2 separate regions of the Homo sapiens genome follow, and region 1 is linked to region 2. Evidence: fine-mapped expression QTL. A gene starts in region 2. The other region holds a variant in brackets. All regions are shown on one strand. Distances are from middle to middle. Region 1 holds the start of LOC107986578 (a long non-coding RNA gene). Region 2 holds the start of CDKAL1 (CDKAL1 threonylcarbamoyladenosine tRNA methylthiotransferase).

Region 1 (5,379 bases), 700 kb after region 2:
AACCTGTTCTCTATCTGGCATGAAGAGAAAATGATGATAGTATTTGTATGGCACACAAGGTACTTTGAGGGGACTGAGTGTGGGGTTATGTGGGGTGGGTCACTCTTGGCGCAGCCCTCCTGTGGCAGCAGACCAGCTGGGAATCTTTGTCCTAGGGATGTGTTTGCTGAATCATGGCTTCCATGGTTGTTGGTTGGTTTGTTTGTTTTTGAGACAGGGTCTCACTCTGTTGCCCAGGCTGGAGTGCAGCAGCGCAATCTTGGCTCACTGTAGCCTTCACCTTCCAGGTTCCAGCAATTCTCCTGCCTCAGCCTCCAGAGTAGCTGGGACTACCGGCACCTGCCACCACACCCAGCTAATTTTTATATTTTTAGTGGAGACGGGGTTTCACCATGTTGGCCAGGCTGGTCTCAAACCTCTGACCTCAAGTGATCAGCCCGCCTTGGCCTCCCAAAGTGCTGGGATTACAGGCGTGAGCCACCACACCTGGCCCATGGTGTTTCTTTGTCATTCTTCCATTGCTGAGAAGATATGGTTGCATCTCTCTAAGAGTTAAATATGTCTGTGGTATGACTCCACTTTACACAGATTCTACCCTTCATGAATTCTGCCTTGATTTTCTATAAACACGGCCCGTCTTTCTCATACAGTTTATGTGTAGTCTGGAGTCATGAACTTGGCCTGGCCCTTCAAGGAAAGGAACTGACTCATTCATACCTACCTTGGGGCCACCTGGCCCATGGTGGGTGTTCAAACGTGTCTCTGTTGAAGGAGTACATAAAAGGCGGCACCTTCTGGAACCCATTGCTTGATTGATATCACAACAGGGCTTTCTCTGCATCTAAAAATAATTTTTTCCTCTGTTTCTCTCTTTATAGGACTTCAGAAATGGGCTTGGGAACCAGCTGAGTTCAGGATCCCACACCTCTGCTGCATCTCAGTGTGACTCAGCGAGTTCCAGAATGGTGCTGCCCATGCCAAGGCTACATCAAGACTGTGCGCTGAGGATGTCCGTGGGCTTGGCTCTGCTGGGTCTTCTTTTTGCTTTTTTTGTCAAGGTCTATAATTAGAATACAACTAATGGAAACATCTATAAAGAAGAATACATTTCTAATTAAAATCTTCAATGAACAGGAAAGCGACATCTCCATTCTCCAAGGGCAATAATTTGTACTGGTCATGCTGCCTCCTTCTCAGCCACTCTTCTTAATGAGGCTCCCCCTGTCTCACATTGAGTTGGGCCCATTGGTTATTTGACCTAAAACCTAATCACCGCTACCATAGCACATCCTTCAAATTAAACTGCTTTTGGTTTACTTTTAGCAAGAAATGCAAGCGGTTGCATTTTTTTCTGTTTGTTTCAATCTCTAATCTTTAAGTCAGAACCTAATTGTACAGTGGCTCTGGCCATCTTTTCCTCATGTGGAAGAATTTTCTATCTTTAATAAACTTTTTCTTTGTTTTTTTTTTCCAGATGGAGTTTCGCTCTTGTCCCCCAGGCTGGAGTGGTGCAGTGGCACGATCTCAGGTCACTGCAACCTCTGCCTCCTGGGTTCAAACGATTCTCCTGCCTCAGCCTCCCAAGTAGCTGGGATTACAGGCATGCGCCACCAAGCCCAGACAATTTTTTTGTGTTTTCAGTAGAGACGGAGTTTCACCATGTTGGCCAGGCTAGTCTCGAACTCCTGACCTCAAGTGATCCGCCCGCCTCGGCCTCCCAAAGTGCTAGGATTACAGGCGTGAGCCACTGCGCCCGGCCTCTTTAATAAATATTTTTAAGTGCATCTTCCCCTTCAGGCTTTGTTTGGAGTCCCAGTGCTACAAACATTGTATTTTTCACAGCAGATGTGTTCCTGAAAAGTGTATAGAAACCTGTTCTGGGAACCTGAATGCTTTTGGAATGCACGGGGAGAGTCTGCCAGCTAAAGGACTCCTGGCAACATTCTGTGAAATATGAAACTGGAAAACTGGATTTGTCGAAAACTAATTGTGCCCATTTTCTCACATTTTTGATCCATTGGGGTTTTTTTTTTGTTTTTGTTTTTTTTTTTTTTTGAGTCAAGGTCTCACTCTGTCACCCTGGCTGGAGTGCAATGGCACTATCTTGGCTCACTGCAGCCTTGACCTCCTGGACTCAAGCAGTCCTCCTACCTCAGCCTCCCTAATAGCCAGGGGCTACAGGCATATACCACCATGCCCAACTAATTTTTTAATTTTTTGTAGAGATGAGTGTCACTATGTTGCCCAGGCTTGCCTGGAACTCCTAGCCTCAAGCAGTCTTCTTGCCTCAGCCTCCCAAAGTGCTGGGATTACAGGCGTGAGCCACTCCACCCAGCCCAGATTAAATGTTTTTATTTCTACCTGCCATCATTGGTCTTTACTAAGTGAAGTGACTTCTTTCTTTAACAATAAATAGAATTGGTATACTAAGCAAATCCTATGTTTTTGAGAATTTATTTGGATTGCATAGGTACAGGAAAACCAGGTACCGTGTAGTTACCATAGGATATTTTCCATCTCGAAACCCATACCCCTCTTCAGCTCTTACATTTAACTCAAAATGTTTGTGTTTTGTGTGTCTTTTAAGGAACCCAAATTAAAATTCAGTCATGTCCTAGTTGGTAAATTATAAAATATATATGCTTTTAGTGTTAGTACATTTCTCCTGGAACTGGTATGTGCTTCTAAGAGGTGCTCACATTTAGAATGCAAAAATCCTCCTGTGCTGCTTCTAGTCCTGCAGTGAAACATCCACTTGGGAGCACCCCTCACTTCTTAGCAGGAATGAGAAGAGGACAAGAACCTACCATGTGCCTCCCTTCTTGAGCTCTACGCAGTCATTTCTTTGTTAATAAACAGTGGGTTCCAGTGTGGTGCTCATTTAACAAAAACCTAGCAGAGATAAAAATGCCATCCAAAGCCTAGAGTTGCACTAGATCAGACATAGAGAAAGCTTTACACCTGTAACTGATTGGAGACAAAAAGGATTTTTTCTACCTCCCTTTTCTCTTTCCCTACTCTTTTCCTCACTCCCTCATCTGTTTATTTCCTCCCTTCTAGCTCTATGCTGTCCTCGCCTTTTTTCATTTTTTTCTTCCTGTAAGAGAATGATACACCCAGTCATCCAAATTCCCCCCCTGCTGC[T/C]CTCACCTACCATGGCAGGGATCCTCAAGGATCGTTTCAGCTGTACAGGATTCTCCCTACTTCCTGCTGTGACTGTTATTTACCCTCAATTTGGCTGCAGCTTCACTCTGCCGTTTGACCCAGAAAGGGACCGAGGTCACTGCCCGCAGCAGACGCTGGACCTTCATGAAATCAGTCTCCATACTGGCGACCAATTGGTGAGAGGGGTAGCAGTGTTCTGGAAATCCAGGGTTTTTCTTCCCCCTGTGACCTCCATCTCTAGGGAGGGGGAGGGAGAGAGCAGAGAAGGATGCAGTGCAAGTTAAAAACAGTTTTCTTAAGCCCTGGACTCTGAATGGGGCTGAGTCTGGGAACCACGGGAGCAAGTGTGATCATGAGTAGAGCTGTTACTTTTCCAGCCTGTCTCCTTCCTGCCCACAGTGCAACTGCGCTTCTCCCGCCCCGCTGAAGTTAGGCACGAAATGTGAAATGTGAGCGGAAGGGTCACGTCCTTCTTCGGGGCAGACATGTTCAGAGCTGGTGTACGGTTTACTGTGTGCTCTTCCCACTGCTGTGGTGATCCTGGACCCATATGTCAGAATGACGCCTCCCCGACCCTGGGTCCCTGAGTTAGTACAGTTGAGTAGGGCTCCTGGCCAGCATGTGCTACATAGGCATCAGGAACCAGAAATATATTGTGGTTGTGTTAAGCCACCGGCATCTGGGGGTCGTAGCCGTAGCATTCGTAACCTGATTTATACGAAGTGTCAGCCGTGATAGGATGCTTGACCCGCAGATTGTAAATGTAATTGTTATGTTTTCTTTGTATGCTTTTGTATGCTTTGCATTAGTATCAAGGGGTGTGTGTGTGTGTGTGTGTGTGTGTGTGTGTGTGTGTACTTCTCTGCTGAGAAGGAAACCTATGAAGTGATCTTTTCAATGCTTTGGCCAATTTTTTTCTTAAACTCTTTACTAGAATAAAACATACATATGAAATGGACATAAATCATAGGGATACAGGGATTTTTAAAAACTGAGCAAGCATTGTAGCCAGCACCAGGAGGCTCCCCATGTACCCTCCTAGCCATTAAGTCTGCCCCGCAAGGAGTAACCAGTATCCTTATTTCTAACATTACAGATTGATTTGCCTGATTCTAAACTTTCTATAAGTGGAATCATGTAGTATGCACTATTTCATGTCTACCTTCTTTTGTTCTACAGTGATTGTGAGACACATCCAGATTATTGTGTGAGCAGTAATTACTTCACGTTCATTGCTGAATAGTATTTCAGTGTATGAGTACACCACATTGTTCATTCTACATTTGAGTTCTTTCCAATTTTTTGTCTATTATGAATAATGCTGCTATAAACACGTTTTGTTAAGTGTTTATGTGATGATGTGAGGAGTACATGTCTAGGGGTGGAATTGCTGGGTCATAGCATTTGCATATGTTCAGCTTAGATACTGCTAAATGGTTTTCTGAAGTGGTTGTACCAATTTACATCCCCACCAGCAGTTGACATGAATTCTGTCATTCTCCCACTATTTTTTCTCTTTGGACCTTAGATATTCTTCAGCAGACCTTGTCTCTGCTGTCTCCCTTCCACAAGTCATTCCTATTTTAATAGTAATGATAATATTGACAACCATTAACTGTCTAGTCCTTAAATGAAATGCACTGGATGTTATACTTTGCACTTAACAGGTGTTAATCAGTCCTGAAGAAAAAATTTTGAGATACGTATTGTGATTCCCATCATACTGAGAAGAAAATCTAAAACTCAAAAGACTAAGTAACTTGTGCAAGAGGCACAGAGCTCTTAAGTTTAGAGGCAGGACTGGTACACAGCCTGACTCCAAAGCATATACTCCTCTTCTGTAAACTCCTCCTGCTCCTCTGTCCCATCTTTGACTTAAACTTGACCTGTGCCAACAGATACACATTTAGGATCAATCCTGTGGATGCCTGAGCTTGGGGGCCTTCAGCCTTTCAGTCTGTGTTGTCCTGCTCCAAGAATGTGCATGGTACTTGATATACTTTTTAAATAAAGATTTACTAATCAAGCTTTTTTCTTTGCCCTGCCCCCTCCTTCCTTCCTTCTTTCTTTCCCTCCTTTCTATTGTCCCTGCTTCATCTTATCATCCCTGCTTCCTTTCTTATCATCCCAGCATGAGATAGTCAGTTTGAGAATGTAAAGAATTCTTGGGTTAAAACTTTGCTTTGTTGCTGGGAAAATGTGTCTAAACATCAG
Region 2 (5,379 bases):
TTGAGGAGGAGCCGGAGAGGGTTTCCAGTCTTTTGCTATTGTAAGCAATGCTTAAAAAAATACTCTGGAACATAGGTCATTGTAAGCAATGCTTCAAAAAATACTCTGGAACATAGGTCATTGTAAGCAATGCTTCAAAAAATACTCTGGAACATAGGTCATTATGTATATTTCTGTAAGATAAATTCCTAGAGGTAGGGTTACTGACTTCAAAGGATTTAGACTAAAGGTGCTTAAAGAGAGAGGTTTCACCTGTTAGTTAGTTTTTGTAGCCAAAACTTGAAAACATCCTTTCTTCCTCTTTTTTCGTACCTATCAATCACCAAGTCTTGCTGCTGTTACCTCCTCAATTTGTTTAAATCTGTCCTTCCTTCCCATTCCTCCCAGCCAACAACTCAATTTAGGCTTTTACTATTTCTTCATGTCTGAAATATCGTCCTCAAACCCATTGTCCTGAGAGAATAATCTGCTCGAACACATTCATGTTGCCTACTACATACATCCAGGATTAAGTCTAATGCCTTTGAATACACAAGGTTCACCTTGATCTAGTCCCTGTGCTTCCCTTTCTCTGGTAGACTTCTCCCATCACCAGCTTCACTCTCTTTGCTTTTACACTGTGGAATAATTCATCATTTCAGGCCTCCTTGCTTTTGCTCTGGCTGACTCTCCAGCTTGGAATGCCTTCATCCATTTCCCTTACTTCACCTTTGTGTTCCTGTGCATTCATCTTTCATAGTGATTGCTATTCTCTACTGAAATGAATTTTTTCAAAATAGCCTGCAATTGCAATAGGCAGTACTTTTTTTCTTTCTTTTTAGCTCTAGCATCTATCACAGTGCTTGTGGTCATGGGGTACATACTCAGTAAAATATCTTTTACTGAACTCAACTAGATCTTGGGGGAAAAGGGGTGGAGTCATTCATTCATTCATTCATTCATTCAACATATGTTTATTGAGAAGCTATAAACATAGGCACAAGGTTATGTGCTAGGTAGTGCGATTACAACCAAGAAGATAACCCAGGGCCTACTTTTGGTCTAGTGAAAGAGATGGAATTAGATGGGTATGGTGGTGTGCACCTGTAGTCCCAGCTACTTGGGAGGCTAAGGCATGAGAATCTCTTGAGGCTAGGAGGGAGAGGTTGCAGTGAGCTGTGATGGTAACACTGTACTCCAGCCTGGGTGACAGAAGAAGACCCTATCTAAAAAAAAAAAAAAAAAAAAAAAAAAAGTAGGGCAACATAAATACACAATTTTAATTTAGGTGGGTAAAGACAACAGTGGACCCCAGGGCACAGTTTAGATTATTTTATGGATATGGATAAACAGAGAAAAGGGTGGTTTTTTTTTTTTTTTTTAAATCTATTTTAGAGACTGGGTCTCACTGTGTTGCCCAGGCTGTTTTCAAACTTCTGAGCTCAAGTGATCCTCCCACATCAGCCTCTTGAGTAGATGGATGGCATTTTAATTAGATGAAATTGTACTAGGAAAGGCATTTGCAAAACAAAGTAATTGCCCCAAATCACTATGAAACCCTAAGTCAGGCATAAAACTCACGATTTCTGACCCTTCTTCATGGCCTATTGCCTCCTATTACCTTTACTTTTTCAAGTAAAGATATTCTTCTGGTAAACACATGGTCAAATACAGTGTCTTGGGTAACGAATAGTAAAGTGAGATAACATATGTAGAGAAAGCGGGTGAGAATCCGTACTCCATAAAAGTATTTTCTTTCCATAGGTGTCTGCTAAACTGCCATCTAAGTTTTCCAAAACAAAAAACAAAAACACTTGTGTGGTGCTCAATGATGTATATTAAGTGAAACCTACCAACTGACCTTTATCCTTTCCTTCCTGTTTTTTTAATATTAAAGAAGAGACCTCTTTTCACAAATGATTGAGGAGGCTAGTAAAATGCAGTGAAAAGAGCAAGTTCTTTGGGAGTCAGACAGCATCGGATCCAGCCCAGAGCGCAGCACGACTAGTAGAGTAACTTAGATTAAGTCCTTAAACTTCCAGTGTCCTCTTTTGTAAACTGGGAATAATAATAATAATAAATAAATAGTGAATAATATTTATGCAAAGTACTTAGCACAGTGTCTAACACATAAAAGCTTAGGAGAAGTTGGCTATTAAGCATTTCTAGGAACCCGAGGACTCAGGGTTGTTATTTTAGTTCTTGGAATCAAAGGAACTTGAAGCGTAGTCATTCCTAAACTAAGTTAAACCAGAACTAGCGCTTTCAGCAATGATGTAATTTGATCTCTTCGGGCCACCGTCGCTGAGCATGCGCAAATAAACGTGGCGGGACGTATGTGTCATGGCGCTCTCCATCTAAAGTCTGTGCAGCTTCCGGAGAGTGGCGGGTTGATTTTCTCACTTTGGACTGGTTTTTACTTCCCGACTTCTGGGTAAGGGTGGCCGATGGGTCCATGTGGGGCAGAGTGTGGCCACAGCTCCTTTTATGGCCAAGCCTTGTTTCTCCAGTTTCAGTTTTTCTTGGGCTGTTTGCAAATTTGTTTCGCAGTTAAAAGGGGATTTGCCAGCTGGGATGGGGGAATTGGGAGGCAGATGGGGCTTCCAGGAGCGAGGATAGGGTCGTTGGCCTCAGGTGCCGCTCTCCAGTTAGGAGTATTTTAGGCACCTCGTTCCTTATTGTCAGGTTTAACTTCATTTGTTCTCCCACTTTATACCTTAGTGAATTTGTAGATGTGACAAGGCTTTCGCAGTTATATAGCTTTCCCAGATCAGTATGTTAAGAATTTAAGCAGAAGTTATTGAGAAAAGCAGGTGTCTTGCTTTTTCACTTTTCGTTCTTCTTTGCTCATAAAACCTTTTTCTGAATCTCGGGACGACAGTTATCTTTCGGATGGAACGTGATCTGGATGTCTATCTACCTTATTGACTTAATCCTGTTTTGTAGTGGTTGGTTACTCGCACTATGCAGACGTGTTGCGGTGCTGAATACAACATTTATTACTAAAGCCAGACACTGGATCACCGTCACGGCAGATGTCAGCACACCTGTTGTAATCAGTAAGAAGTTACAAGTAGTATGGAGCATCATTAATCCTGCTGTATAAAGCAGTCTTTTATGGAGTCTGATTCCTTTTAAGTAAAGAATCCTTACAGTGGTTTTGTGAACTTTTTGGGTGCTTACTTTTCCTAATCAATTTTTATTTTCCAGACTCATCTTTCAAGAGGACTTTAGACTAATTGCAGATAATTAAGGTACTGATTTATTTTAAACCTTTTATGTTTGAGTGCTGTGCGTATTTCTGCATGTTAGAAAATGCAGAGAGGTAGCCTAATGTTTTAGCTATTTGCCACTATCATGTTATGGAAACATTGTGCTTTACATAGCATTAAATCGAAGAGATATTTTCATTTATTTTACTTAACCTTTCATTTTCATTCACCAGCATTGACCATGTCCACTTTTTTGAGATGCCCTTTTCATTTGCCTTCCATGGCCCATGGATTTTTTTCCTTGTCTGGTGGCTGCTTCTTGGAATCCATTATAAGCTGATTTTCCTTTATCTGGCAGTTAAATTTGGAGTCTCTCAAGTCGTGGTCTTGTACCTTCTCCTACCTCTGTTCTCTTTTTCTTCCCCTCTGGGTGATGTAATCCACATGCCTGTCAACAGTTATTTGTCTTTTTGATTCTACCCATCCTAATGGGTATGAAGTGGTGTATTATTGTGGTTTGGATTTCCATTTCCCTGATGGCTCATGATGTTGACATCTTTTCATGTGCTTATCAGCCATTTGTATGTGTGTGTTTTTGAGACACGGCTTCCCTATGCCACCCAGGCCAGAGTGCAGTGGCTCGATTACGGCTCACTGCAGCCTTGACCACCTGGTCTCAAGTGATCCCACTTCAGCCTCCCAAGTAGCTGGGACTACAGGTGCATGCCACCATGCCCGGCTAAATTTTACTTTTTTTTTTTTTTTTGTAGCGATAGGGTCCGTGTTGCCTAGGCTCTGGCCTTGTACTCCTGGCCTGAAGTGATCCTGCCACCTTGGCTTCCCAGTGTTGGGATTATAGGCATGAGCCTCTGCACCTGGCCCATTTCTGTATCTTCTTCATCTAATCTGTTTTTCCTTTTGTTGCTTGTGCTTTTCATTTCTTAGCTAAGAAAGAAGGGCCTACTCTAACATCATAAAGATTTGTGCTTATGTTTTTTTCTAAGAGTTTCATAATGTTAGCTCCTAAATTTAGGTCTATGATCCATTTTCGGTTAATTTTTGTATATGATGTGAAATGTGAAATAGGGCTCCAACTTTATTTTTTACATGTTGCTATCCAGTTATCCCAGTGTCATTTGTTGAAAAAAAAACTACGCTTTCCCCCTTGAATTGTCTAGGTTATGTATATTTGACATACATTCTAGGTGGTTTTTATGAAAGAATAATTCTGGGACAGTGATTATCAAACTTTAATTCAGATCAAAATCACCTAGAGGGCCTGTTAAATATTGCTAGGTTTTACTCAAAATATCTGATTTAGTATGTCTGGAGTGGAGTTCAAGAATTTTCATTTCTGGCTGGGCATGGTGGCTCATGCCTGTAATCCCATACTTTAGGGGCCAAGATGGGAGGAGTTTGAGACCAGCCTGGACAACAAAGCGAGACCTTGTTTTTACAAAAAAACTGAAAAAGAAAAAATGTTCATTTCTAACAAGTTCCCCATGATGCTACTCCAGCTGATGTGGAAACTACACTTTGAAAACCACTGGACATTGCTTTGCAACTGTGGCTGTACACACATGAGAATGACTGGAAAGTTTTTAAAAGATATTGATGCCCAGGCTCCATTCTCAGAGATTCATTCAGCTATCTTGGGGCTTAGTTGGGAATTTTCTTTTTTTTCTTTTGTTTTTGTTTTTGTTTTGAGACAGAGTCTCGCTCTGTCGCCCAGGCTGGAGTGCAGTGGCGTGATCTCGGCTCACTGCAAGCTTAGTTGGGAATTTTCAAAAGCTCTTCAGGTGAATAGAATGAGTGTTGAAGATTGAGAACCATTACTGTGGAATCGTGGTTCTTAATTAGGGATCTATAGTGGAATTACCTGGACAGTTTCTATGTTCACATACTTCAGTTCTACTCTTGGAGATTCTAATTCAGAATGGAACCTGGAGATTTGATATGATGAAAAGCTTCCCGCTGGGTGCAGTGGCTCACGCCTGTAATCCCAGCACTTTGGGAGGCCAAGGCAGGTGGATCACCTGAGGTTGGGAGTTCAAGACCAGCCTGACCAACATGGTGAAACCCCGTCTCTACTAAAAATACAAAATTAGCTGGGCGTGGTGGCAGGTGCCTGTAATCCCAGCTACTCGGGAGGCTGAGGCAGGAGAATTGCTTGAACCCAGGAGGCACA

What was found. PIP is the estimated chance that this variant, and not a neighbour inherited with it, causes the effect.
Region 1: its variant is fine-mapped to the expression of CDKAL1 in CD4 T cells (CEDAR, PIP 0.95). The same link has a PIP of 0.9 or more in B cells and monocytes.

What each region holds. Positions count from the first base shown.
Region 1 is chr6:21,229,970-21,235,348 of GRCh38, forward strand. CDKAL1 (CDKAL1 threonylcarbamoyladenosine tRNA methylthiotransferase) reads left to right here. Exons shown (of 16, transcript NM_017774.3): 16 at 879-2,435. The coding sequence ends at 1,070. LOC107986578 (a long non-coding RNA gene) reads right to left here and starts at 1,090. Exons shown (of 2, transcript XR_001744021.2): 1 at 722-1,090. RefSeq lists an enhancer at 252-1,451. The variant T/C (reference allele first, on the strand shown) is at 3,145.
Region 2 is chr6:20,532,162-20,537,540 of GRCh38, forward strand. CDKAL1 (CDKAL1 threonylcarbamoyladenosine tRNA methylthiotransferase) reads left to right here and starts at 2,296. Exons shown (of 16, transcript NM_017774.3): 1 at 2,296-2,413; 2 at 3,190-3,233. RefSeq lists enhancers at 2,225-2,384, 2,415-2,494.